Linked DNA regions of Homo sapiens: region 2 is linked to region 1. Evidence: fine-mapped expression QTL. A gene starts in region 1. The other region holds a variant in brackets. All regions are shown on one strand. Distances are from middle to middle.

What was found.
Region 2: its variant is fine-mapped to the expression of CCNG2 in esophagus mucosa (GTEx, PIP above 0.99).

Annotation. Positions count from the first base shown.
Region 1 is chr4:77,150,183-77,163,102 of GRCh38, reverse strand. CCNG2 (cyclin G2) reads right to left here and starts at 5,896. Exons shown (of 8, transcript NM_004354.3): 1 at 5,597-5,896; 2 at 4,433-4,570; 3 at 3,599-3,736; 4 at 2,132-2,382; 5 at 1,545-1,623; 6 at 1,356-1,454. The coding sequence starts at 4,570. It overlaps LOC101928864 (a long non-coding RNA gene), which reads left to right and starts at 5,039. Exons shown (of 2, transcript XR_244659.5): 1 at 5,039-7,833; 2 at 8,127-8,349. It also overlaps the pseudogene RNU6-1187P. RefSeq lists silencers at 5,588-5,697, 5,728-5,797, 6,218-6,337, 8,680-8,749 and an enhancer at 10,460-10,509.
Region 2 is chr4:77,196,454-77,209,373 of GRCh38, reverse strand. No RefSeq gene overlaps it. Among named protein-coding and RNA genes, the nearest start is that of CCNG2, 46 kb to the right of the region's middle. The variant CACG/G (reference allele first, on the strand shown) is at 7,379.

The DNA of each region.
Region 1 (12,920 bases):
TTATTCCAAAACGCCAAACACCTACTAGACACCCACCTGTGTACACAAGCATCTAAAATCATATTGCTCTCATCACAAATTAACTTCTCCCAAATTTCCTGCCAATTATGCTAATATTATATCCACCATTAGGTACAAATCTTGGTCATTCAAGACTCCTTGCCTCATTTCCATGCTTGGCTTCCAAAACCACTGTTTGAGTTGGACAGCCTTACTCCTGCTTGTGACTACCACCTAGACATTGTACCTGTAAGTCTACCCTAAAATGACTTTTATATCTGTCTAGTCCACCAATTTCTTGGCCGTTAAGCCTTCGCTGAAACTTTCACTGTCAAAGATTCTTTTGCTCCAAACAGGCTCCCAGTCATAGTGTTTCTCCTAGTCTGCCCTATTTCTTTGCTTAAAAAAAACCCAAAGTAAGCCGGGCACAGTGGCTCACGCCTGTAATCCCAGCACTTTGGGAGGCCAAGGCAGGTGGGATCACTTGAAGTCAGGAGTTCAAGACCGGCCTGGCCAACATGGCGAAACCCCATCTCTACCAAAAATATAAAAATTAGCCTGGCATGGTGGTGAGCACCTGTAGCCCCAGCTACTCGGGAGGTTGACGCAGGAGAATCACTTGAACCCGAGAGGCTGAGGTTGCGGTGAGCCAAGATCATGCCACTGCACTCTAGCTTGGGCAACAGAGCAAGACTGTCTCAAAAAAAAAAAAAAAAAAAAAAAAAATCCCAAAGTACTCTCTATATTCACTATTACCTGGCACCAAGACACAATAACAAATGACAGAACACACCACTTCATGTTAAGTTCCTCATTTCCCCAACTAGACTGAGAGTTTAAGAAAAAGTATTGTGCTTTTGTTTTATATCTCTTTGTGATGGTAAGACTTACTTTTACTTAGCTGGCCTAAAGGATTTGAAAAGACATTCGGGTTTAAAACATCAACATTGCTGGTGTTAATTGATGCTGCTGCTAATGGGATGACAGTTCAGTCCTACAGGTGTGATGGGATCCCATCCTATCCCATTAGTGTTTGTTCTGAGTCTACTACCTAGTATGCATTTCAGAACAATGCATATGTGGCAATGTAACAGCTGTACTATCATATGGCATGATTACTACAGAAGGGGCACCTATATGCAGAAAGAAGCTGAGCTAAGTGACCAGGTTCCCTTCCGGATTAATACTGTCTGGGTCAAAGCTGCATTTTGAGAACTTTAACACTAGAGATATAAGAAAAAAAACAAGTGTAAAAGTTAAGAGTCCCATAAAGTATTACTTAATGTTTAAGTCACCACAGAAAAAAATAAACATCAGGAAAAAAATTTGCCTTAAAGAATAATGACTGTAATTACCTTGGAATGTTTTTTAACTAGCAAGAGAATTTCCAGTAATTCAACAGATTTCAAAGTTTCCACTTCCAAATTGAGAAGGCACAAGGCTAATACAGATGGCTGTAAGAAAAAAGAAAAAAAAGAAAAATATTTTTTAAAAATTCAAAATACAAACTGTGAGATATATACATAAGCAAGGAATCGACTTACTTTTGCTTTTGAAAAGATGAGTCGGCAGTTGCAAGCTTTCAGCTGAGCTTCTAGTTTATCAAGGCTCAGTATTTCTTTCCTATACAATGCAAAGAACAAAGATTTATTAAACTTCCAAAGATTTAAATGATTTTAAATGATTTTAAATATTTGCCAGGGCCAGACGCGGTGTCTCACGCCTGTAATCCCACCACTTTGGAAGGCAGAAGCAGGTGGATCACCTAAGGTCAGGAGTTCGAGACCAGCCTGACCAACATGGAAAAACCCTGTCTCTACTAAAAATATAAAATTAGCCAGGTGTGGTGGCGCACGCCTGTAATCCCAGCTACTTGGGAGGCTGACGCAGGAGAATCGCTTGAACCCGGGAAGTGGAGGTTGCAGTGAGCCGAGATCACGCCATTGCACTCCAGCCTGGGCAACAAGAGCGAAATTCCTTCTCCAAAAAAAAAAAAAAAAAAAGATTTACCAATAAAGTCAAAGTTGAAAGTTTGAAGAAGGTAAAAATATAAATTTCATTGCCATTCCAATTATTTACTGTTAGCTATAGCAATGTTCAAAGTACAAAATGTATCTTTAATCCCACTGACCTTTCTGAAGTATGACAAAGTATAATAGTATGGTATAAGTGCAAAAAGTTTAAGGCAGTAGTAGCTTCCAATTCATAGTGCAATTTTTCTGAAATTATTTTTTCCATCCGTTTTATGTCAGAAGCAGTACATTTACACTGACTAATCCGGATCACATCATGAGTGGATGGAATATTGCAGTCTTCTTCAACTATTCTAGCAGCCAGCAAAAAAGAACAGACTCCAATGCAAGACAAATGTTTAGGTTTCACCTGAGAAAAAAACAAGAGGCTTCTTTTAACAACTGTCACTTTGACTTAGCAGATACTTAGAATATTGTAATGATGCTCCTATTCTTAAGACAGAACACAATCAAGTTGTTTCTCTTATATGTACTGGCTCTTTACCCACAATTATACACATTTTCACATTTTAGACGTTCTCGACCTCCCCCCCCCCCCAAAAAAAAAGGCAGCAGGGAACAGTGGCTCATGCCTGTAATCCCAGGACTTTGGGAGGCTGAGGTGGGAGGACTGCTTGAGGCCAGGAGTTTGAGAACACTCTGGCCAACATAGCAAGACTATTCTGGCCAACACAGCAAGCCTCCATCTCTATTTAAAAAAAAAAAAAAAAGTTTTTTGAACCTTTAAATTATGTAAATTCAAATGCAGGTACAAAAATTTCCATGCAGGTTCAAAAGCTAGATTCCTAGCACTAAAGTATAATTTGTATTTCAGACTTATGAAATTCATAATATAATCTCTCCCAAAATAAATTAAGCTTTTTAACACCAAAAAAAAATGTACTGGGATATTAAAATATTTTATACTTATCTTTTTACATAAAAATCTTTAAGAGTCATTCCATATTTCAATGTAATTTTGCCCAAGAGAAATATCACGAGTTGTGCAGAGTGGGACATATGTAAAAGCTGCCATGGACAGATGGCGGCCCTTTTCTTTTCAGTGCCCTGAGAACTGACCCAGCAGCTGACAGCAATCCTACTGGCAGAAGATTCCCCACATTTTTCTAGCCATTGCTGGTGACTGTTAATAAAACCATGGCTCCCTGCTTTGAAGAGACTTCTAGGGAAGGCAGCCGGTCATATTTAATAAACTGTTATACTTCATTTGTCATGCTTCAGTATTTTAAAAATCTGGCTTCAAGAGAAGCATGATGGCAGATGAAATCTTATATTGAGGACTATAAATATATGGCAAATACCTAAAAAATAGTAGTCTCTCTTTTGTCACATATTCAAGAGAAAGTACTTAAGAGGTAAAACCTAAGACACAACAGAAAAACCTAAGATACAACAATACAATTAATCTTGTAGTCTTATTCTGGCACTAACGATCACAATTCTGATTATAAATTTTTATGTACAGTGGACGTTATTATACCCATTCGATAAATATTTCTTGAACCCTGTGTGCTAGGCACTGGGCATAGAAAAAGGAAGACATATTTATAAAAATGATGAAATACCTTCATAAGAGCCAAGAACCTGTCCAAAATATTGACAGCCAGGACAAAAGTTTCAGTGCAAGATCCAAAAAAGTTGGCTAAACTCCTTAAATCTTCAACTTTGGCATTTCTCAATCCTGGACACAAAGTGTTATCATTCTGCAATAAAAACCAAGAACCAAGGTTTACAATTTTCTTAGAACCAGATGAAAAACACATACAGGTCCAAAGAATAAGGTTAATTTTTTCCCAAGAATAAGGTTAATTTTTTTCCCTCAATCTTCAAGAATATAGGTGGAAAGAGTGGTATCGCTTAACTAAAGCTATACACTTTATCATCTGTAAGACGTAAATCACTGCTTCTTAAAAATACGCATCATAAAAGAGCTTCAGCAATTCAATATAAGGTGAACTGTTGCAAGATTTCAGAGAGTTATAGCAAATATAATTCAATTCCCTTGGAATGGAGAGAAAGGGTTCTTTTGTTTGCTTTTCTAAAGTCATTTAAGATTCTACTATAAATATGTATTTCACAGGCAGAGGGTGTTTGCACAAATGAACTACTCAATTCACCCGGGGTCTCCCATCCTGAAGCTGCAGGCTGGAGTATGGGGGGCAGCGAGGAGGGTGCCACATTAAAAACAACAACAAAAAACCCCACTTCTCTAAAGTATCACTCTCATTCTTGCTAAGAAACAAAAGCATTAACCTGTAATAAGGTTTATCTTGGTACTCCAGAAAGAACAACTTTTAAGAAATTTTGCAGGCTTTAGTCATGATTCAACGGGGGCGGGGGGGTTACCTCCTCCAAGCCCCATCAGCTGCTTGAGCAAGTTATCTTTTCTGCCAACTTACCTCCGGGGTAGCCTCAATCAAACTCAGCCCTTTTTCTCGAGGTTGGAATCTCTCTTCTTGTTCCAGGTAGACGTTCAACAACCCGAGAAGTTGGACCCCTTCATGACCTGCCAAGTGCTCTGCCCCCAAATCCTTCATCTGCAGTAAAGACACCACACAGAGAATGTAATCTGGGGGTAAGAGGGGTGGGGAAGCGGGAGAAAGGGCTGAGGCCAGTACCTCCAGCAAGGGTCGCCCCAGCACACCCCGACAAGGAGCGGGTGAAGGGACCAGTCACGTCCGCCAGAGCCCCAGGGCAATCCCCACCACGGCCAGGGAGGTGTGGCAGGGGGAGGAGCCGTGGTCAGGTCCGCCGGCCAGCGCTGGGTAAGACCGGCCAGCCCTGGCCTCTTGGCGTTTCACAAACAGGAAACTGTCCGCGGGCGCCGGCGTCCCCTCGGTCTGCCCCACCTGAAGTCGCGCCAGGGAGGGCCTTCTGCCCAGGGGACTGCAGTGTGGCGAGCGACTGCAGCGGGTCCCGGGGATGGGGTGTTGCACAATAGGGGGGAGGGGAGGGAGAGTCTCGCGACTGAACAAAGAAGCGGAGGGAGGAGACTCCCGAGCCCCGCCCGCCCGGGGCGCCCAGCTGCAGAAGCCCCTCTCGGAGAGTCCCGCCCCCAGCTTTTCCCGTCCGCTGCTGCAGCGCCGATTCCGGACTTACCCGAGAGGCGGATACCCCCGTCCCAGGAGCCCTGGGGTGGCGCGGCACACCCGGCTACGGTCCGGGGAGAGAAGTCCAGTCCAGCCCGCCCGCCCCGCGCCCGTAGGGACAACACCCGTCCACCCACTGATGCCGGGGCCCCACAACTCTGCAGAGCCCCGGGGCTGTCAATTCGAGAAGCACCACGCCAGCAAGTCCCCGTGACAACACGAGCGGGGGCGGGGGGCACCGAGGCGGAGACTGCCCTTAACCTAGTCGCAACCTCCTTCCACCCCACGAGCATCTATCTGTCCATCGCGGGCGCCAGCTCCCCCCGGGGCTGGGGCTGAGGGCAGCACCCTGGTCGCTCCAGCGGATGAGGAGCAGGCAGCACCGAGGCACTCGCATGGTACCAACCTCCTCAAAGCCCACAGTCCCCACCACGAACAAAGAAACCCACGGCGGCCCTGGGCGGGTCCACTCACCGTGCCGGAGACGCGCCTCCACCCGCCCGCGGCCTCGCGGTCCGCACGGACTGGGCGCAGCGGGGGCTTCCAAACCTGTCTCGCAGGTCGGGGACCCACCGCCTCAGCGGTGCCCCCGGTCCGGCATCCGACCCTTCCTCCCAGGCACCGCCGCCTCGGCCTCACAGCCCCGGCTCCATCCCGCTCCCCGCGCGCCCACCCTCCGCCGCGGCGCAACGCCGGCCGCGGAAGACCAGCCCACCGCCGCACCCCCGCCGCCTCAGCGGAAACCTCCCCGAGCCCCTTGTTTTTGTTAAGAGTTTCGACGCCCCCAAGGGGGCGGGGCACGTGACTCCCCGCGGAGGGATCCTGCACTTCCTCCACGGACTTTAAAAAAGAGTCCCGCCCCTAAGCTGCCGTCTCGAGCCTCTCTCGCGGCCTCCCTAGCTCTCCTTGGCTTTGCCGAGCCAGTCCTCCCGCCTGGCGCTAGGGCGGAGAGCGGAATCTGGGCGTCGGGCTTATTCCGCGATTGATCTGCGTTGGGGAACGGGGGAAGACAGAGGGGCGGAAGGAGATCGTTTCTGGTCTCATTACGCCTTTTAAAGGTCCCCGATTTGTTTTGTTTTCGCTGTTTTGAAAAGTCCGCCCAAAGTAGCCGGCTCTCTGATTGGATGCGGGTGGGGCGATGGGCATGCTGAGGACCTGATTCACCCTCGAATCTGGATTGGCTAACTTATCAGTCTTGGAGCCCTCTGATTGGCTTTCTCCGTAGCCTGAGCCTCTCTCTGCCTTGGGGCCTTAGCAACTCCAGGGTCTGGATTGCGCATGCCTGGGTGTGCAGCGGAGAAGGTATTCAGTTACCTGCCCTGCGGGGCTGTGCCTTCTCGCCTGGCTGCCTCCGCCTTTCTTGGGGGAATGTCACGCTCGCGGCGCTTCTCCTAACAGCTAACCTTTGTGACAGCCTTTTCAGCCACGGGAGAGTTTTCTACATTCCTTCTTTATTTTGTCTTGGCGTTCCATTTTGCAATAACCCACCAAATTATTATAACATTGTCGGGGCGTTTACTAAAATATTCAATAAATGCTACAAGTTTGGGTATTTGCTTTAAAATTTTACAGTCCAAGAGAAAAAAAAATGGAGAAGAGAGGTGAAATAAGATAGGCAAAAAGTTGAGGGTCGAAGCTGGGTGATGGGTACTCGAGGCTGCATTACAGTATTCTTTCTAGTTCTGTGTCTTGGAATTTTTCCATAATTTAAAAAAATTCAGGAGGGACTGAAGGAGGGGCTTTTCAATAAAAACTTAGCACGCTGATGAGGGTACGTAAACATCTAATAATTACGGCGTACCTCCAGAGGTTGTAGTGCTGTTGTTTTAATGAAGACTCCCAGAGCTTCTTGGTCCTTGGTAACCCATAAATTATCATTTATTGTTCATTATAATTAGCGTTGTTATTATAGGCGACACGTCTCCCAGGACGGGACAAAAAGCAAACAAACCAGGTGCCTTAGGCCAGAGACACTTTCACACGGAATATCAATGGGGCATGTGGTTGACTGCCCTGGAACATTTATTTGTTTACTCTCTCCCTCCTAAATTAGAAAATACCATATTCGTGAGTTCTAATCTACATAATCAGATAGTCCCTGGGAAGAGATTTCTCCTTTCTGTTCTTCTATGTGTTTTCTGTGAATTATTTTGTTACTTGTGAAATATGGGAAGGCACACAACATAGCTTTGGCAGCGCTCTTCTTTGCGGAGCAGCTAAGGAATTTTAAAACTAGGTCCCTTTGCATATTAGCTCGGACTAAACACAGGCATCTGTTTGGAGCACAGAGCAACTGGGGGAAGGCAGCCCAAAAAGCTAACACTTATTTCAGAGAGGTGTGAGCTTGGTGAGGGTTTTGGAAAATAAGATAAAATTAGCACACCAGTTTTAAATGATTTACAGGCTACATAATTTTATCCAATGCTTGTTTTATCTTTTAAACATTAAGTGATAACTTTTATTTGACATAATCATCTTGCTGGAAATCTATGCTGATAAACATAATAGGAGCATGAAACTAACTTAGAGACTAGAGCTAAGATTAAAATTACAGAGATGACAGCTCATTGTACAGAGCATCAATAGGCTGAGTGGACAGGGCCCACAGACAGAAAGCAGCTCGACCAACTATCCACCATCAGAGAAATGAAGAGTTTGTGATCAAAGCATGAAGGAGACTGGGGATGTTTTTTTCAAGTAAGAAGGCAAAGGTAAAAAAGGAACATACGTTATTTTATAAGTGATGTGAAAGAGGAAATGCAAATTTATGTGGTAGAAGACTTTAAAAATAACAGACTATATAAAACAAAAAGGAAAAGATTTAGAAATTGTCCTTTGCTTAGGCTACATAATTTTATCCAATGCTTATCTGATCTTTTAAACATAAATAAGTGATAACTTTTATTTGACATAATCATCTTGCTGCTTAGCACTAAATGATATGAAGCTATACTAAATGTGTACTCTATATTTCATAACTGGTATTTTATGTGTCCTTTTACAGACAGCCTCTTGAATGATGTGAACAGTGATGGCTTTCTCTGAGAGTAAGACAAGAAAGCTTTGTAAATGGCGTTGAATTTCCTGCTCTTGGCAGGCCCTGCTCAGCACAGAAGAAAAGACTGATCAAGTTGTCCAAGATGGAGCCCTTTATCCACGTTAGTCCACTTATCTCTTTAAGATTAAAGGAAAGCAATCATTAAAAATACAGATCCAGTAATTATTAATACAGCATCCTCTTTTTTAAACACCTCATTTTAAGAATGATGATATTCTTAGGAAATGGGCTGGGGGATTATGTAGGTTTTCTCTGTTTACTTTGCAGAATTTTTTGTTTGTTAATATATCTTTTAAAAAAAAATTCTCCTCATTCTATTTGTCCTTATCACATTGGCTTACCTTGCCGGAGCTGAAAGTGTTATTTATGAAAAAGACATTATTCCCCTTAGGCTAATCAGGCTTTACCCATTAGCCTTTCCTGAGCTTTCTGGAAGGCAAATTTCCTGTATCATGCACACATACAAAATAAGGAAATCAGAAACTTGGCAGCCCCCAAGAACTTCCAGACAATTTAAGATACTTGGTTTTCTACAGCATGTGGTAGGGGTGCAGTGGGGTTGGGTGATACTGTCACCAATAACCCCATGAAAGCCTGATGTGCAGCCCATTGTCCTCAGTGACATGTGAGACTGAAACTAAAAGGTGCTCACAGAATGGGTAATAAGCAGGGAGTGCCCACACAGAAACACTGACTACATTCAGTGAATCCCTGACTCCTGACAAGTGTGCTGCAAACCTGCTCACACTTAAGCTTCTACCTTGAAAATAGGGCACTCTCATGGGACAGTTGCAGTGCTTCCCTAAATGACTTAGACTTCCCTGAACTTCATAAGGCATCAAAATTGCTACAATTTTCCAAATATCATCTTTCTCCTCAAAGATATGGTTTTTGACAATAAATCCTAGCTTTTTATTCAATCGAAATTTAGTGAATACACACTGAGTGCCAGGCATGCTACTAGGCACCAGGAATACAAAAATACATAAATAAAACAAGGCCCCAGCATATACCCTGGTATGTCTGAGGTGTAGGGCAAAAGCACTGGCCATGGATCAAACTGGCTTTGTGTCTCAGCTTTCCTACTCATTAGAAATGGTGCCTTGAATACCCTGAATAATTCCCATGGTCTTGAGCCTCAGCTTTCTAAACTGAGGAAAACAAAAAGCCAGAGGTAGTTGTGTCTGCTTCATATGTGATGACTGAATACAAACATTTGTGAAAGCAACTAGCTATATATTTCTAGGCTGCACCATGTTGTGACTTCATGAAGGGAAAGGAAGGGATCATCCCTAACCTCATCAAAGAAGTCTGGTGGAAAGCAGCCCTGAAAGGAAAGAACCTGAGGATAAGGATACGTAAAGCTGACATGAGGCCATACTCCCCCTCCCCGTCTACTCACTATTGCTGGGTCCCTGCCTGGGCTGTTTTCTGTCATTAGGCTGAGCACAGTGGTTCATACCTGGAATCCCGGCACTTTGGGAGGCTGAGGTGGGAGGATCACTTGAGCCCAGGAGTTCAAGACCAGCCTGGGCAACATAGCGAGACTTCATCTCTACAAAAAATTTTAAAAATTATCTGGGCGTGGTGGCATGCACCCGTAGTCCCAGCTACATGTGAGCCTGAGACAAGAAGATTGCTTGAGCCTGGGAGGTCTATGCTACAGTGAGCCATGATCATGTCACTGCACTCTGGCCTGGGCAACAGAGCAAAACCCTGTCTCAAAAAAAAAAAAAAAAGTGGTTTGCAGCCCCAAACTTCCTGCTTAGATAAGTCTTGCTTCACAGAACCTGCAATGGAGACAGGAATGCCTCTCTGAGGAAGAGAAACAGGGAAGGTATAGCATAGTAGCATAGGGTGCTATCTTGAAGTAATGCAGATTTTTCAACCAAGAGCTCATTTTTAAATCAGAACCTGGAAGAATGAGATGATTTATATAGCAGATGATTAATCTCTGTCTTCAAGCAATCAGCAGAATAAGTCAGTGAAACATCTCATATATTCTCCTTTCTGATTTTCCCACAAACAAGACCATCTCAAATTTGAAATCAACATTTTACAATCCATTTACTATATATTTTGTTGCTTTTGTTGTTAATGCTAGAAGCATGCCCTGTTTTTTTGGAAGAGTGTTTATGCAAGGGTTGGCCATATTCATAAACATTCATAGTGTTTATCTACGTAGGGTTGGCTTTGGAATTGTGGAAATTATCCACACTGTAGACACCATCTGAATGACTACAGCAAGAGGACCAGTTTTTCCAGCCAGCCACTTTAGTCCCTCCCAGTTCTACTAGCCTGCAAGAGAGTAGCCTTGTAGGAACTATCTCTGCAACCTGAGAACTTGAGAACTAAATGCTCGGTTGACTCTGAAGCCCGACTCAGTACTTTGTTATCCAGTGCTCTCTCTTTTACACGAATAATCAACTGAAATAAATGAAGTAGCTTTGACATAATGTGAAAAGCCTGGCAAAGGAGAGTGAACTGAGAATTCGGCAATGCCTGAAATCAGAACTAATCATCTCAAAATCATCTTAAAATATATTTTAAGTGGCTCAGGCTACATTCTGGTACATTGTACATGATTCTTTATGTAACACATTTTTCTTTCATGGTTTGTTTCAAGAACCATGACCTAACTCAGAGATTTCCTGTCTTTCCTTGACATCACAGTGCTATATGAAGTTGACACTGTCAGCAAAGAGTAACTTAGGATACATCTGTTGAATGTATCATCTTATTTCCAAAAGAAGTTTTACTGTCTGTGAGAGTCATGATCTCTTTTTTTATCTCAAATGAAAAGGCAATTGATGTTTAAAGTGATATGGATAAGTGGTATAAGCTTAAAATTTGCTTCTGTTAACATTTTAAAGTGTTTTCAAAATGAAATTTTTTTTTTAACTTTAAAAAGAAAGACTGCTGTTGAAACCCTGTCTCTACTAAAAATACAAAAATTAGCTGGGTGTGGTGGCACACACCTGTAGTCCCAGCTACTTGGGAGGCTGAGACAGGAGAATCACTTGAACCTGGGAAGTGGAGGTTGCAGTGAGCCAAGATCACGCCACTGCACTCCAGCCTGGTGACAGAGCGAGACTCCGTCTCAGAAAAAAAGAAAGACTGCTTTATATCAAAGATCCTCAGGTCTGTTTAATTACGTATATTTTTATGTTTTCAACCACATTCTGAATAAGAAATTGTGGCTACATGCAGAAGTAGAACCAGATTTAAGGTAGTACATTTGAAGCTTTACTATTTGGAGGGGCTCTCTCTAGGAAAAAAAGAATTTACAAATACAAAATTAGATATGAAAGTGAATACTTATTTAAAACGAGACAATTCAAGACAAAGTGTAAATTTTAAACAGTTGTTACATACTGACTGCTTCGGCTATCTACTGCTGTACAATGAATCACCCAAAACTTAGTGACTCAAAACAACAATAATTTTATTATCATCACCCACAGGTCTGGGGCGTTGCTTGAACTCAGCTGGGCAGCCCTTGCTCAGGGTTTCTTATGAAGTTGTAATCAGATGGTAACTGCGGCTGGCATCATCTTGCTGCCACTCACGTGTCTGGAGTTGTTGCTGACTGTGGGCTGGGACCTCTGCTGAGGCTGGTGGCTGGAACATTTATATGTGACCACTCCACGTGGTCTTTCCATTTCCTCATGGCATGGTGGCAGGGCCTGAAGAAAATCAGGTGAACACTGTGTCTCCTTTTACAAACCAGCCTTGGCAGTCAGATAGCATCTATATTAATTTCACACTGATGGTCTAGGAAATTACCACAAATTTAGGGATTTAAAACAACAAATGTTTATCATATTACAGTTCTGGAGGTCAGAAGTTCAAAATGGGTCTCACTGGGCTAAAATCAAGGTGTCAGCAGGGCTGCAGTCCTTCTGAAGGCTCTAGAGAGTATTCATTTTCTTGCCTTTTCCACCATCTAGAGGCCACCTGCGTTCCTTGGCTTGTGGCTCTTCCTCCATCTTTAAAGCCGGCATCATGGCATCTCCAGATCTCTCTTGACTCTGACTCTTCTGCCTCCCACTTCCAGCTATAAGGACCTTAGTGATTACATTGGGCCCACCTGAATAGTCCAGTATAGTCTCACCATCTCAACGTCAGCTGGTGCTTGCTTCAGCATCACATATATTAAAATTGTTTTTTTGTTGTTTTTTTTGTGTGTGGGGGGGGTTGTTTGTTGTTTGTTTGTTTGTTTTGAGATGGAGTCTTACTCTGTCACCCAGGCTGGAGTGCAGTGGCACGATCTCGGCTCACTGCAACCTCTGCCTCCTGGGTTCAAGGGATTCTCCTGCCTCAGCCTCCCAAGTAGCTGGGATTATAGGTGTGCACCACCACGCCCAGCTAATTTTTGTATTTTTGGCAGAGACAGGGTTTTGCCCTCTTGGCCAGGCTGGTCTTGAACTCCTGACTTCAGGTGATCTGCCCGCTTCAGCCTCCCAAAGTACTGAGATTACAGGCGTGAGCCACCACGCCTGGCCACATATATTAAAATTGGAATGTTACAGAGAAGATTAGCATGGCCCCCATGCAAGGATGACAGGCAAATTTATGAAGTGTTCCGTATTTTTAAGAAAAAGAAAAGTTTGGGCATGGTGGCTCATGTCTGTAATCCCTGCACTTTGGGAGGCCGAGATGGGAGGATTGCCTGAGCCCAGGGCTTCTAGACCAGCCTGGGCAACATGGCAAGACGTTTTCTCTACAAAAATTTTAAAA
Region 2 (12,920 bases), 46 kb before region 1:
GTAGCAAAAGCCTCAGTAAGAAAGCTCATAGTGTTTAAAACTAGGTTGAGTAAACTTCAGAACAATTTTTGGAGAGTCTAAGACTACTAAGCTCCTCTCCCAGCTCTAACAAATAACAGCCTTGTGAAGAGTTTCACAAGCGATATGCTTAGGTTTTAGTGACTCAAGTAATCTTGACAGTTGAAGAGGGTAGCTGGAGAAGCTGACTGGAGTTCTAGAGGCACAGCAGAAGGGAAATAGAAGTCAGTATAGGTGTACAGGACAGAACACTGGAGGCATATTAGGGTACCAGCCAAGCCTGTCAGTTGCAAATCCTGTTATGGTCAGTTACCTCCAAGTTCTAGGGGAACTCTAGGATTATGTTGTACTACGTAACTATGACATGGTACTCGAGTCTGAGGTGGCTATGAAGCTACAGGTGAGATCGGTATAGTTTTAGAAGTTCTACAGCTTATGTGCACCTGCTCAGATGTTCAACCTCACCTCTCCGTAGGCACTCCAACCACTTGCTCAGACACATTGGAGCTATTTTCTTTCTAAGTGCCTGCATGGTTTCAACTGGAGACCTCCCAAACCTGTGTGCAGTCCCTAGTTCTTCCTTCCATTGTAGGAGGAAGCACCACACCCTGACAGCTTCTGAAGGGTTCCATGTTACCAGTAGTTGAACATGGGTCACTCACCCCAAAGGACACACCAGGGCAAGCACCAACCCAAAGCAGGGGCTCCATGGCCCTCAGTGCATTAAGCATGAATTATTTAAATTCCCTTAGTTTGGAAGGGATGATGCAGATGCCTGGAAGCATCTAGTGCCAAAATTAACGTCCTGGAGAAACGCAGTTTGAGTTTTCTTCATGAGGAGCAGGGCACCATACAAGGGGTACATCCTGAGAATGTTGTCCATACCTTGAGAAGTGCCATGGTTCTAAAACCATCTAGTGAGCTTACTGATCCTTAAGTTCAGGAGAAAAGCATACCTGTAGTAGTTGCAGGTTGCAGCATAAAGGTGCCCTACTGCTTGGGCTAGGTGATCTAACATGGTGCTGGAAGTAATTGTGATGCATGAAGATGCCACATGACACCTCTGGAAAATCCAAACATAAAACCCTAGGTTTCTACTGCAAGGCACGATCTATGACAGAACTATTCTGCATTTGAGAAATAGGCCATGACTTAAAACTATTAGACCCCAGGGGAGACTGAGTCCTGAACATTTCGCACCAAGTAATATCCCAAACTGGAGCTCCCCATCATAAGCTAGGTTTATACCAGATCTAAATCCTAAGGTTAGGTAGGACAGTAACAACTCACTTTTCCCCTCCCAGATTTGTTCTTCTATTGTATCCTCTATTAGTGGCACTACCACACAGCAGTGCCCATACCAGAAGCCTGGAAGCTGATCATGTCTATTACTACCCACTCTTATGACACCTATTCCAATCCCCAAAGTCAGTTTTCCTACTTGAGATGTTGCTATGTTGAACATACCAGTCTGACCATGTTACTGTCTTGTATAACACTACGCAGTGTCTTCCCTGACCCATTAGGTAAGTGCTGACACTCTTGTAAGAATCTGCTCCCCTCCCTCAGCTTGGTACTGGCAAAACCAAGCTGCAAGTTTTCTTAAGCTTTGTTCCATGTATACGGACGATGCTTTTTCTAGACTTCCCCTTTCACAGAGCAGCAGTAAGGTTTACTTTATGCTTTCATTCCCTGACCCTACCTCCCATTACCAACTTTGGGAACACCTTTAGGGTTAACCAGATTGTTATTGCCACACTGAAGTTACTCAGATACAGTTCTACCTTCCGGTGCTCCCAGAAGCAGGGGTTCTCATGTCAAGACCTTGAGATATAGCTGGAGGACCTGGTTAGCTGAGCAGACAAGGGTTCTTAGCAAGTCTCCCTCTGCAGACATCCATGTTAATATACACTGAACTAAAGAATTCGTGAACCATCGGGCATAGCAACTGAGTTGACATTGCCATCTAGACACCCAGAGCATTATGGCCACAAGTTAAAGTACACACACACAGGAGTTACAACTATCTTCCATTTGAGAAATAGATTGCAGCTTTAAATTATACCCTAGTACAGACTGAGGAAATGGAGTTCTTGCAGATGTTTGGCTGACAGTTGGTCCACTAGGTCCGAAGACCCACCCAGAAATATTTCCCCTGAGTACACAATTGAAATTGATGTGCTTGTCATTTGAATAAATCCCTACGTTGGGTCCCTAGCCATGTGAAGTAACAGCATCACAGCAGGGCCAGTTAGAAACTTCTGAAACTGTCCCTACCCCAGCCAAGATATTAAGTCACAAGTATTGCACCCCTGTAGGGGATGGTCAACATTAGTGCCATGCTTAAGTATCAAGCAAATATGGTTGGTGGTCCTTATCTGTTCAATTCTGCATTCTAGCCCATGACGAAATTAGATACTAGAGGATAATTAAAGCACTACAAGTTCAACCAAGTGTCTGGCCTGGTTCCCAACGGGTCGGGTTCCACAAGCAGTATACCTGGTCAGCTACTTTGTATCACAAAGGGCCCAAGATGAGAATGCACATATACATAGGTGGTTCAATGGCATCACTTTCCAGTCAGCAGCCTGGAACAAAGGACTGAACGGTCAGAGACAAGATTTGGGTAGAGGAATGTGGATGGACATAGTAAGGCTATGTATGAAGTGTGGAGCTGTGTGTCTCACATTAACACCCACCAGGAAGGGTCCATCTTGGAAAAGGTACTGAACTTACTTGACCTGGCTGAGACTATTGCAGACCCATATTGCAGGGCAGGGGCTCTACCTGTTCTTCCCTTCCCTGGTTCCTTGCACAGGTGTTACACCTGTAAGACCTGAAGATTCTCCCTTGCTGCTCCTATTCCAACTCCCTTCCACCCCCCACCCCAAGTATTACCCCCACTGAGTCTCTTGCACTTAACTACAAAGGATCCAAACTGACACCATAGAAGTTGTTCTTCCTACCCCTGCTAGTATTGATTGCCTTTAAATGCATTCCCCAGGCCTACATTCAGCACTCCCCTAACCACAGGCCGAGATGCAGAATCTAATCCAAGGCAGACTCATCCATATACCTTGGAAACCCCCCCCAAAATTATGCTCAGGGTCAGAATTGACAAAGTTGGCCAAAATTCCCTAGATCCTACTGGTAAAGGGTTGCCTTCTATTTAAGATTGGAGCTGAGCAAGAATCCAGCCACAGCCCCATAGTCAAATTCACAAAGCTTCCTGAAATTTACCTGTGTTTAAGAGCTCCTCTAACCCTGTGCTGGGAAGTTCCTCTCACCCCTCAAAATGTTTGCTACTTCTTCCGGGAAAGCAGTGAGAGACTTCCAACTATCTGTTATCTTGCCACTCTAATTTCTCCTCCCCAGACTTCACCACAGAGGTATTGCTAGAAGCAGTTCATTTCTTCCCTTAGTGTAACCCACCCAATCTGACATTCCCACCAAACGAAATGAAGACCTTAGAGAAAGTCTTTCCTTCAAGCAATCCCTAGTTTGGACTCAGTACATCTAGACAAATGACTTCAGTATTGTATGGGAAAGCTGTGAACACCATCTGCAATTCTCACTGTGAAACCTGAAGATGCTTAATGTCCCAGGACCTTCTCATTAGACCAAAATTATAGACACTCATCTGTCTCAGGAAGTCAGGACCATTGTGTGCCAAACTAGCATGTGTGGGAGGAGAGGCTTACCTAGAGATTCTATCAAACAGCTTCTGAGACCCCACTGCCCAAGACACTCACTTCCATACGGAGCAGGACCTGGCCGAGTTCCACGTTTGTCTTGCCCTGATAGTGGTACTCCTCTCCGTGGCGGGGTAGGGGAGGAGGGGGCGGCTGGGGGCGGGGGGAGTCTGATCCTGTTGCTCCTAATGCCACACTTTCAGGGAACCTAGAAAGCCTTTGAAGACCCTCAGACTGGCCTGTACCTTTTACATGCCAGTGTGGAGCCCTGGATATGAGGCCATCAGCAATATGCAGGTAGTGTGCCACAGCAAGACTGCCATAGAAATTCAGGGCTTAAGTGTCTGAGGTACCATTCACCTCACTTTCCCCATGGGGTTCTGAAAGTAATTGGGAACTACACCTGAAATCAAGATCAGACAAGCTTTGTTTCACTGAATCAGAGGACCAAAGCTGGAAGTGGGCCCCCGAACTAGGCTGAGCAAGTCTTCTACCATTGAGTAACGTAAGCCCACTCAGTGAGCAATCCTTCCATATACATTCATGAAGTAAAACAAGTACCATAAAACTCATGAGGGCAGTTCTCTCTAGAAGGGTTAACTACATATGTGCCATGAGTTGTTCCTAGTCTCATTAACCCATCCAGGTTCTTTTCCCTTGGGTAATATTGAAGAGATAGAGAAAAGCAGAGACTAGATAACTTAAGTGTTTCAAAAATAGAAGTTACATAACTTCACATGGTATAAATCAGTAGTTGATATTGCACATCTACAAGACATACCTTTTGAATTAGAACATTGGATTTTGCTTTCCATCAAAAGATTTATGTATAGGAAAAATTCACATCTGGAATCCATTTGCTTTTCAGGAAGATAACTGTAGCCTTCTAAGATAAGCCATTGTAACTAGATGGTGATGAAGGATTAGAGATGAGTTTAAAATAAAGCATTACTTCATTTTAAAAGTTAAATATACCCCAATTCTGCTACAATAGCTTTAAATTCTTCTGTTCTGGTCAACATACTTCTGAGGGATGTGAGATTGGCCTCTGCTGTGAAAGCTATTAAAACAAAGCCTTTTGGTTGTTTTCCTCTGAGTAGCATTGCTATCACTCCAACCTAGATTCAGTAGGTTAAACAAGCTTATTTGTCACATGAAGAACTCAGTACATTAAGCACTATATGCACAATAGTCATTCTGTACAAGAACATTAACATGTACCTCAGTTACCTCTAGATAACTATCATTGTACATTTGTAGTCGTCACCTGTCACCTGTATGTTCTTCCAACGAACCATGTATTTCTTCCCCTTTGTTTGCTAGGGTGTGGGTTTAACAAAATTTGGCATTTTCTATTTATTGTGTTTTACAAAGTATTGGTCCATGGCAGATCAGAACCAAATGGGTCCTTTAGGTAGTCTCAAAAGCTAGTCGGGGTCATTTTAACTTTAACTGTAGTTGAGACCTATTAACTCACTAGAAGATCAGCCATTTCTAGGCACTAGGCTAAGGTCCTAAGCCTTCCATCCAAGCACAAGAAGGTGTTTAGGGAAACAGGTTTCTCAAAACCAGCTCAAGATTTGCAGCTATGTTTATTCTCATATACCTTGAGCAAATGAGAACAAAGCAATTAGCCTTGTGTGGAAGGAATGGAGGGATTGTGTTGATAATGCCAACCCTAGAAGCCATCTTAGGAGAAGAGGCAAGAGGCCCAAACAATGAAGCAAGGGTGAAGCAAAAGCTGCCAGAGAGGACCTAACGGGGCCTGCCCTCATGTTTGGAGCCTTGGACTGTTTCAGGAATTAGACACACGGGGTCTTGCCACTTTGAAGCATGGGGCACAACCAGTTTTAAACTGCCATCAACAGGGGGCGCTTAGTAACCATAAAAGCTTGACTGAGTTGCAAAGCCATGACTTTGCTAACTCTTGAAAAGTGAGCTGGACGTAAGGATGCTCCCCGTTTGGAGTGAATGCTTTACCACAGCAGCATAGACACCGTTGAAACATTTACTCAGAGTCGAGTAGAGTAAGCTACTTGGTCTCAATTTCATACTGTCTTCAAGAGCACAGGTGAGCCATGGCTATCTGCTATGCTGGTTAGACATGCAGTCATGTAAGCTTTTCTTAGGACCAGTTCAGCATAGTTGTGGAACTTTGTCACATTGGAAGGCCTCATGACCCCAGTTTGAGGGGTTTCTCCCATCGAGACCCATTATCCCAAGGGCTCTCTCCCAGAGTCCCTGCTGCTGCTAGGGACACAGTCACAGGACTTAGCCTCTAGCAATCAGAGACACCAGGACTATTTCAGAAAGGAACAAGGAGTCAGTAGGTGGAACCATTTTAGAGTAGGGCAGCTACTTAATTTGGTGGGTTTAATGTGGAGGAATTGGTGAGCATATGAGACCAGAGCAAATCAATCAACTCCTGCTACACTGAGTTCTGGACATTATCTCATGTTTTACTCACTCGTTTATAACCTGAAAGCAAGGAAAAACTTGTTACAAGAATAAAACAAAAGCTACATGTTTAGAAGGGCCCAAGTTTACCAAGATTGCCCAACAACCCTGTTTTTCTAGCTTCTCTCCCCTCTGCGAAATTTGGGAGTTGGAAAGATACATCAGAAGTCAGTGATAAGTTTAGAGACATGGTTCTACCATAGTCTAACTCAGCCAAGCCTTATCTTTCTAGTATTAGGACTAAGACATTTGGGATTCACGAAGGGTTGAGATTTACCAGAAAAAAAGCCATGGGGTTAAATAAATGAAAGATACTATAACAAGGAAATAAAGTCAATAAAGGCAACAGCTGGAATGAGAAAGTCTGTGGGTTGGAGATTTGTGTCAAGAGAAGTAGTCTTAACAGGCCTGAAGTGGAATGACTTGAACAAGAGACTTGAACAAGCTGGAGAGGAAGACGGGGTGAGTGAGACAAAACTGGGTTGTTTAGGACAAAGTACAAGGTGTTAACCACCTATTCATGAGGAATTCCAGTAGGAAGCAGTTGACAGGAAGGTGAGTCAGGGGATGGGGAAGGTGTTTTCACAACCATACTAACACCTCTTCTTGCAGAACTAGTTATCTGGCTGTGGACCCAAACCTGGGGTTCAGGTCCCAATACACTTTGTATAAGGAAGACCTTGTGCAGGTTTAGCTTCAGATTATCATATAGGTGATAACCACCAAGGACAGAGTAGTTGAGATGTCATATTCCTGGCAGATCCGGCCCATAAATGCTTTCTCAGGTATGTCAGGTTAAATAGAAACTGATTATGGTAACACCTCCAAATAAGATTTCTATCAGTTCTGGTTTGTCAGGTGACATACTAATTGCCTCACTAATCAGACAAGTATTGTTACGCTAGTCTAGATTTTTACTGTTAACAGGAAGGTATATGAATACATTGCTTGTATAAAACAAGCAGTCCTTAACTGGTTTTATTAAGGCACTCCCGAGAGATGTTAGGTGCAGTTAAGCCACAGGCCAAGAGAAAAGGGAGAAAAAAAGAACAGCAAGATATGCTGTAAATTATGACAGATTTACTCCACCCTTTTTATGTCTATTTGGTCATTTAGTCATAGACAATCAAGTACATGACTAAGCTCAGGACATTTAACCCATTACACCCTGCCACACCAAAAGCTTTTCATAGAAGCCCCATGTTACCCAC[CACG/G]TTGACATTTGAGTCAGTGTACTCAAGAGCCAGGTAAGCACAGGGAAACAATCATTTCCTGTAGCATGAGTGGTCTTAAGACATCTAGCTTCCTGTTGAGCAAGGTAAGAATGACATCCACCCGACTATTTGATTTTAGAGGTTTAGCTTATTGATCCGAGTTATACCTGACCCTTAACCATAAAGCATTAAAGTGAGACGTTTGTTCTCAAGGCAAGCTATAGCAAGTCACTGTAAGAGGAGTAGTATATGGAAAGACTTCAAAACAACCTAAAGTGAACAATTTCCTAGGTTTGAGAGATTGTGAGGGTGACACTGAGCCTCAGTTTTTCTCTATAAAATAAAACCCTGAGGTAGTTACTCCTATAAGTGAACCAATATGAGAGCATTCAGAACAATGGCATGAAGTCAAGTCTGGGTGACTCTTGTACATACTATTCCTTGTCCACATTCATAGGTATTTTGCAAGTTGAGTCATGACTGGTCTGTTCATAGTCACCATGGTCCTATACATTCATGAATCAGTATGTATATGGTCTTAAATGCCTGCGACATTAAGAGGAAATCAGCTCACTACCCAACAACCTTAAAGCAAAGCAGTAAGAATTAAGGATAGGGAAATAGAACCTTAAAAGATGACAAGAGGTGGGTGGGAAGTGGTATAAGATTAGGCAAAAGTAACTAGTATGAACATGAAAATAGAACCAGAATGCTGAGAGAACCCAAAGAGATGGCTATATATGGAACCAGAGTGTTCTTAAAAATCCACCCCAAATTGACCAGAAGCATGGTAACTGGAAGTGACGTGAAACCACCTAGTAGAAATTTGAGCAGAAACTGCACAGCAGTGGGGAATTCACTATGAAGTATACCAATAAGTGTGGCTTCCTCAACCTGTAGAGGCTGTGTTGGTTCAAAACAATGTTGCATAGGTTTGGGGATACCCATGGCATTGTTTATAGTTCTACTTCCAAGTTCATCTGGGAATGTGTCTCATCTATTGATCTGACAAGTCTTTCTCAACCCTGTGAGAGGTATAGAAATCTTTGAAAGACATGCTAAAGATACCCAGCTCCTACAAATGGTGGGGGTGGGTGGAGAATAGAATAGCAAGCAACAGCTAGCATTTGTGAGAACTCTGATTTCTTATGAGCTAACAGATCTATTAGTTCAAATTGTACATGTCCCCATATAACTAGGGACATGCCTACTACCAGTAAAGTTGACAAAATGCAGTCAATCCACTTAGTACCTGATCATAAGCAAAAAACTTTAAAATGCAATTCCACGTGTTGAAATTTAAGACATCAAGAAAGCCCCTCTGAATCATGGTTGTGACTGAGTATCTACTGGAAGAAGCTTCTATCACCAGGGAGGGTCTTTACCTATGCACTCAAATCCTATGGAGTCTTGGACAAAGCAAAATAGTCACTGAAATATTACACGGCAGGTGACAAACTGACAGCTGGGAGTTCAGCATGTTTCTCTCAGCCTAAGTCAAATGGACACCAGCGAGTTTTCCCGTGCATTGGGTCCTTTGCTGTTGCTAGGCTTTATTTCCGTCAAGACTGATTCATTATTCAAGGGCAGTTACAGGTGTATGTGTACAATAATTATCTTCCATTAGGTCACATGTCTGGCCAGTCTCAAGCTCATCTTTGGTCAAACTGTTCATGTCGCATTAGCTCAAGACCAGGATGGACATATGCAGACTCATCCTAGACAAGTGCTTTTTATGCTGGAGTAATAGCCAAAGTTTAGCTTGGGTGAAACATTGGATGCCTTTGCTGCTGAGTCGAGGGAATCACTGGTTTTTATTCTGAGACAAACTTTCCAAATACTCCTTGGTAAGTGAAATATGGGCAAGTTCTGCCTAAGAGAACAGTAACTAAGATCAAGTTGAGAAGACAGTTGTAGGAAGGACTGCTCCAATTACCATAAAGTGTTAGTTGCCTCCCCAACAGGCTAACTTGCTGGTAGAGGCTCACACAAGGTGAGGGAAACAACTCTTCCATCACACTCAAATCCAAGTGACAAGATAGCCAAGTCTGTTATACAAGCTAATTGGTTAAAGCAGAACACTTGCCAGAGGAGCTCAAGTATTTGGCTCACTTAAATGTCATACACAACAAAGCCAGACAGTGTTTGAGATTCTTCATTACCCTCAGTATCAGTCACAAATAATCTAGCATCATACAGAGAAAGCAGTGAGGGGAAGAGCACAGGAGCTTCCAGGTAATGGCCCTAGTTAACTCCGGGCCTCAAGTGGGTTCATAAACAAGTTGGTCCATGTTCTGGTTAGTATTTTTGTCAACTGCCCCCAAATCCAAGGGAACTGCTTCAGCACAGCCAATGCTACTGATTTGACAGCTTCCTACTTTCTAGATATGCCAAGGGGTTCTATTCTGAGAGAGCCAAGTTAAAAGTTCTTAAACATGGTGGCTGCTGCCTTTCTTCCCTAATTGCAGACACTGGCCTTGCAGCAGCCCAGCCCAGCTTCAGCCTGGGGCTGTCTTTCCTGCTCTTCAGCCTCCCCACAGCTCTGACACAGGTCAGAGGAATGGACACCCATCTACCTTCCTGTGATAACTCCACAAGACCAAAAACTTCCTTCTTGGCAAAAATCACATGCCTCCCGGATAAGCCATCCCAGCTGTCCTAAACCCCAATCCAACCCAAGTCAGTTTCCGTAGAAATAAGTGTTAAGCAGTTGTGTTGAAGACAAGAAGACTGCCCCCTCCTCTCTAGATGAGGTTTGATTAGGTTCAGGTGTTTACCACTGGTCCTTATAGGTAACACATCAACATCAAGTCCAAGTAAATTGAATAAGGTATATACTCCTGTTGGCTTAGAAAGCTAATATAGCACATCACTGAAAAGCACACTCCAGCCTGATTTAGGTATAATAGGAAGGGGAGTTGTGGGCGCTTGAGCTTTTGGGATAGGAATTGGGCACTACAGCATAGATGTTAAATGCTCTCAAGTACTTGATCTCTAGACACCTGTAACCTCTCAGTGTGTTGTCCAGGATCTAAAGAATACCAGTAACCCAAACTGAAAACTGGAAGATATTGAATGAGAGCTACTTGTATTCTTCCCATTTCCCGTGCTCAGGACAAATAAGTTACTAAAATGAGCTTTGGAATGGGTGCTTTAGATATAGATGGCATAGAAGATGCCAGGACAAAGCTTACCCACAATAATCAAAGTGATTGCTAGGGGTATGGAAAATGGTCATATTGCTGACAGAATGGTGTTTTACACAAAGGCAGTCATTCTGACAAAGTCCAAGTAATACAAGTGGTTCTAGCCTACTAGTTCCTGGAAGTTTCCAAGGATTTGCACTCAGACAGCAATACAGACACTACATTCTACCGTCATTTTAGATCAGCATTTCCCTAAAGCGGTAACAAATGAATTAAACAAAAACAAAAACTTAAAGTTATGTTTTATCCAGAGCTGTGCTCTCCAATATAACCACTATTCATTGAGCACTTGATAGGACCCATCTCAATTGATACACTAAGTTTAAAATGCATACCAGGCTCAGTACCAAGAATAAGCTGGGTTACATGTCAAAATAAGCATCTCTTGGGTTAAAGATATTCGTTTTTCTTTAATGGGACTGACTATATATGGCTTATACTTTTGGCTCGTGTGTCTCAGCACTGTTCTAGAGGCTCCTATAAATTCCCTCTAAAGAGGATGCACAGAGAACTTGATCTGGAAGCGTTCCAAACACATTTGCAGATAGGAGTTGAGAGCTCTTTAAAAAGAGGTGATTTCAGAACTAGACAAAATCACAAGACTGTTCTGTTTATATCACATCCCCTTCTATCTGGGAGTTCCTAACCCCAGTCCCAAAGACACATGGCACATTAGGTCCCTTTGACTGTCCTGTTGATCATGACGAATTTTTGCATCTCTACAAGTTCTCCAGACTGTTTCAGCAGTAAAATAGACCAGAAGTCATCCTGGGCTTTCCTAGGCTTCTTCCCCATCTCAACTTAGCCATGCTTCTACCAGGCCACCACATTAAGGAAGTAAGACCACATTGTCATCTACAGGGCTTACCTACTGAAGACAAGTTCCATCCCCCTCACTTTATGCTTCCTAGAGCGCCCAAACTTCTGTCACATAGTTGGGAAAGGTTATTCCAGATTAGACACCAGAATTTAGATACACAAAGGCACTGTAATGTAGCGTTTAGGCCAGAGCTGAAGTCTACTCCATTGAGAATTACTTCACAGGAAAAAACCCAGACTTGAAAGTCAGTTCCAATTCCCAGCCAGCACTCCCTCACCCATTTTCTATTGCCATTAAGTAACAAGCTACAGCTGGGTCTTCATGTTCCTTCAAGCTACGTTGTAAGTTCCTGGAGGGCAGGGACTCCCCTCTGGAGTGTGCTCAGTGTGCAAGGGTGTTAACTAATCTCTCCAGGCCAGTCAGACCAGTCCTGCACAAATGCTTCAACAGGCTCGTTTGCTACCAGCAGTTACTTGCTCCAGTCACCTGCCTCATGACCATTGCTAGGTAAAGCATTTCAGTTTGGGTGGCAGCCGGAGAAACCATTTAGCCCGAATAACCTCCAGCCACCGCTCTGCTCTCACTCAGGGGCTTTTTTAAAGAATCTATTCCCTGAGGAAAAAGATCCCAACCATTTGAAAGTCAGATGTCAGAGGGCCCGTTTGTAGGCACACTACAATTGCTTTATGGATCAGAGGATTCAGAAACAGTGAGGGCCCAGCTCCCTAGTGAGAGCACTTTCTCCAGCACCACCCCCAACTGAAGATCAGACCTACAGTACTGAAACTGATGTCATAGGAGCCGTGAGACCCAGAGTGTGAGCAGTAAGCTGAAATCTGCCACAGAAACAGGATTAAACCAAGATATGGCATCTCCCTATGGGTAGCCTGAGAATTGAGAAGTTAATCCTGTGACCACAGCTGCAAGCTTGAGGCACCTCCCTCATCAGGGACTGATTCGGAGAACTCTAGTGGGCAAGCACCTCAATAAGCAAAAGTATGTTTAGACCCCTCAGACTGTTCCAATGCCTCGGGGATTCTCTGGGCTCCTTGCGGCAGCAGGCCAGCAAGGGGTTCTGCTTACATGCTTCCTGCCACACCTAGAGCAGTCTTACTTTGCTAGATTATGTCAAGATTCTAAAGACTTAAAAGTTACTGGCCCAAATTAAACATGTAATCTGTGTAGATTGGGAGGAAGTGGGTCTTGATAAGTTACCTTTAACAAATCCCTCAAGAAATTAGTTTCTCCTAGAGTCAAGAGTTTCAGTACACCTGGTTCCAGTTTCTATCACTTAGTTCTCACCTTCGACCACCTGTAACTTCTCTCATCTGAATGGCTGACAATTAGGAAGAAAGTCGTCTTCAGCTAGGGACTGTTTTAGACAGGTTTGATGCCAAGAAGTGACATGGCTACCATCAGTTTCCTGGTAAAGAAGCCACTAGCCTCTGGCATCAAGCAGCTCTAGGTAGACACTAGACACTAAGCAGGAACCCCAAAAATAGGTTGAATCCGA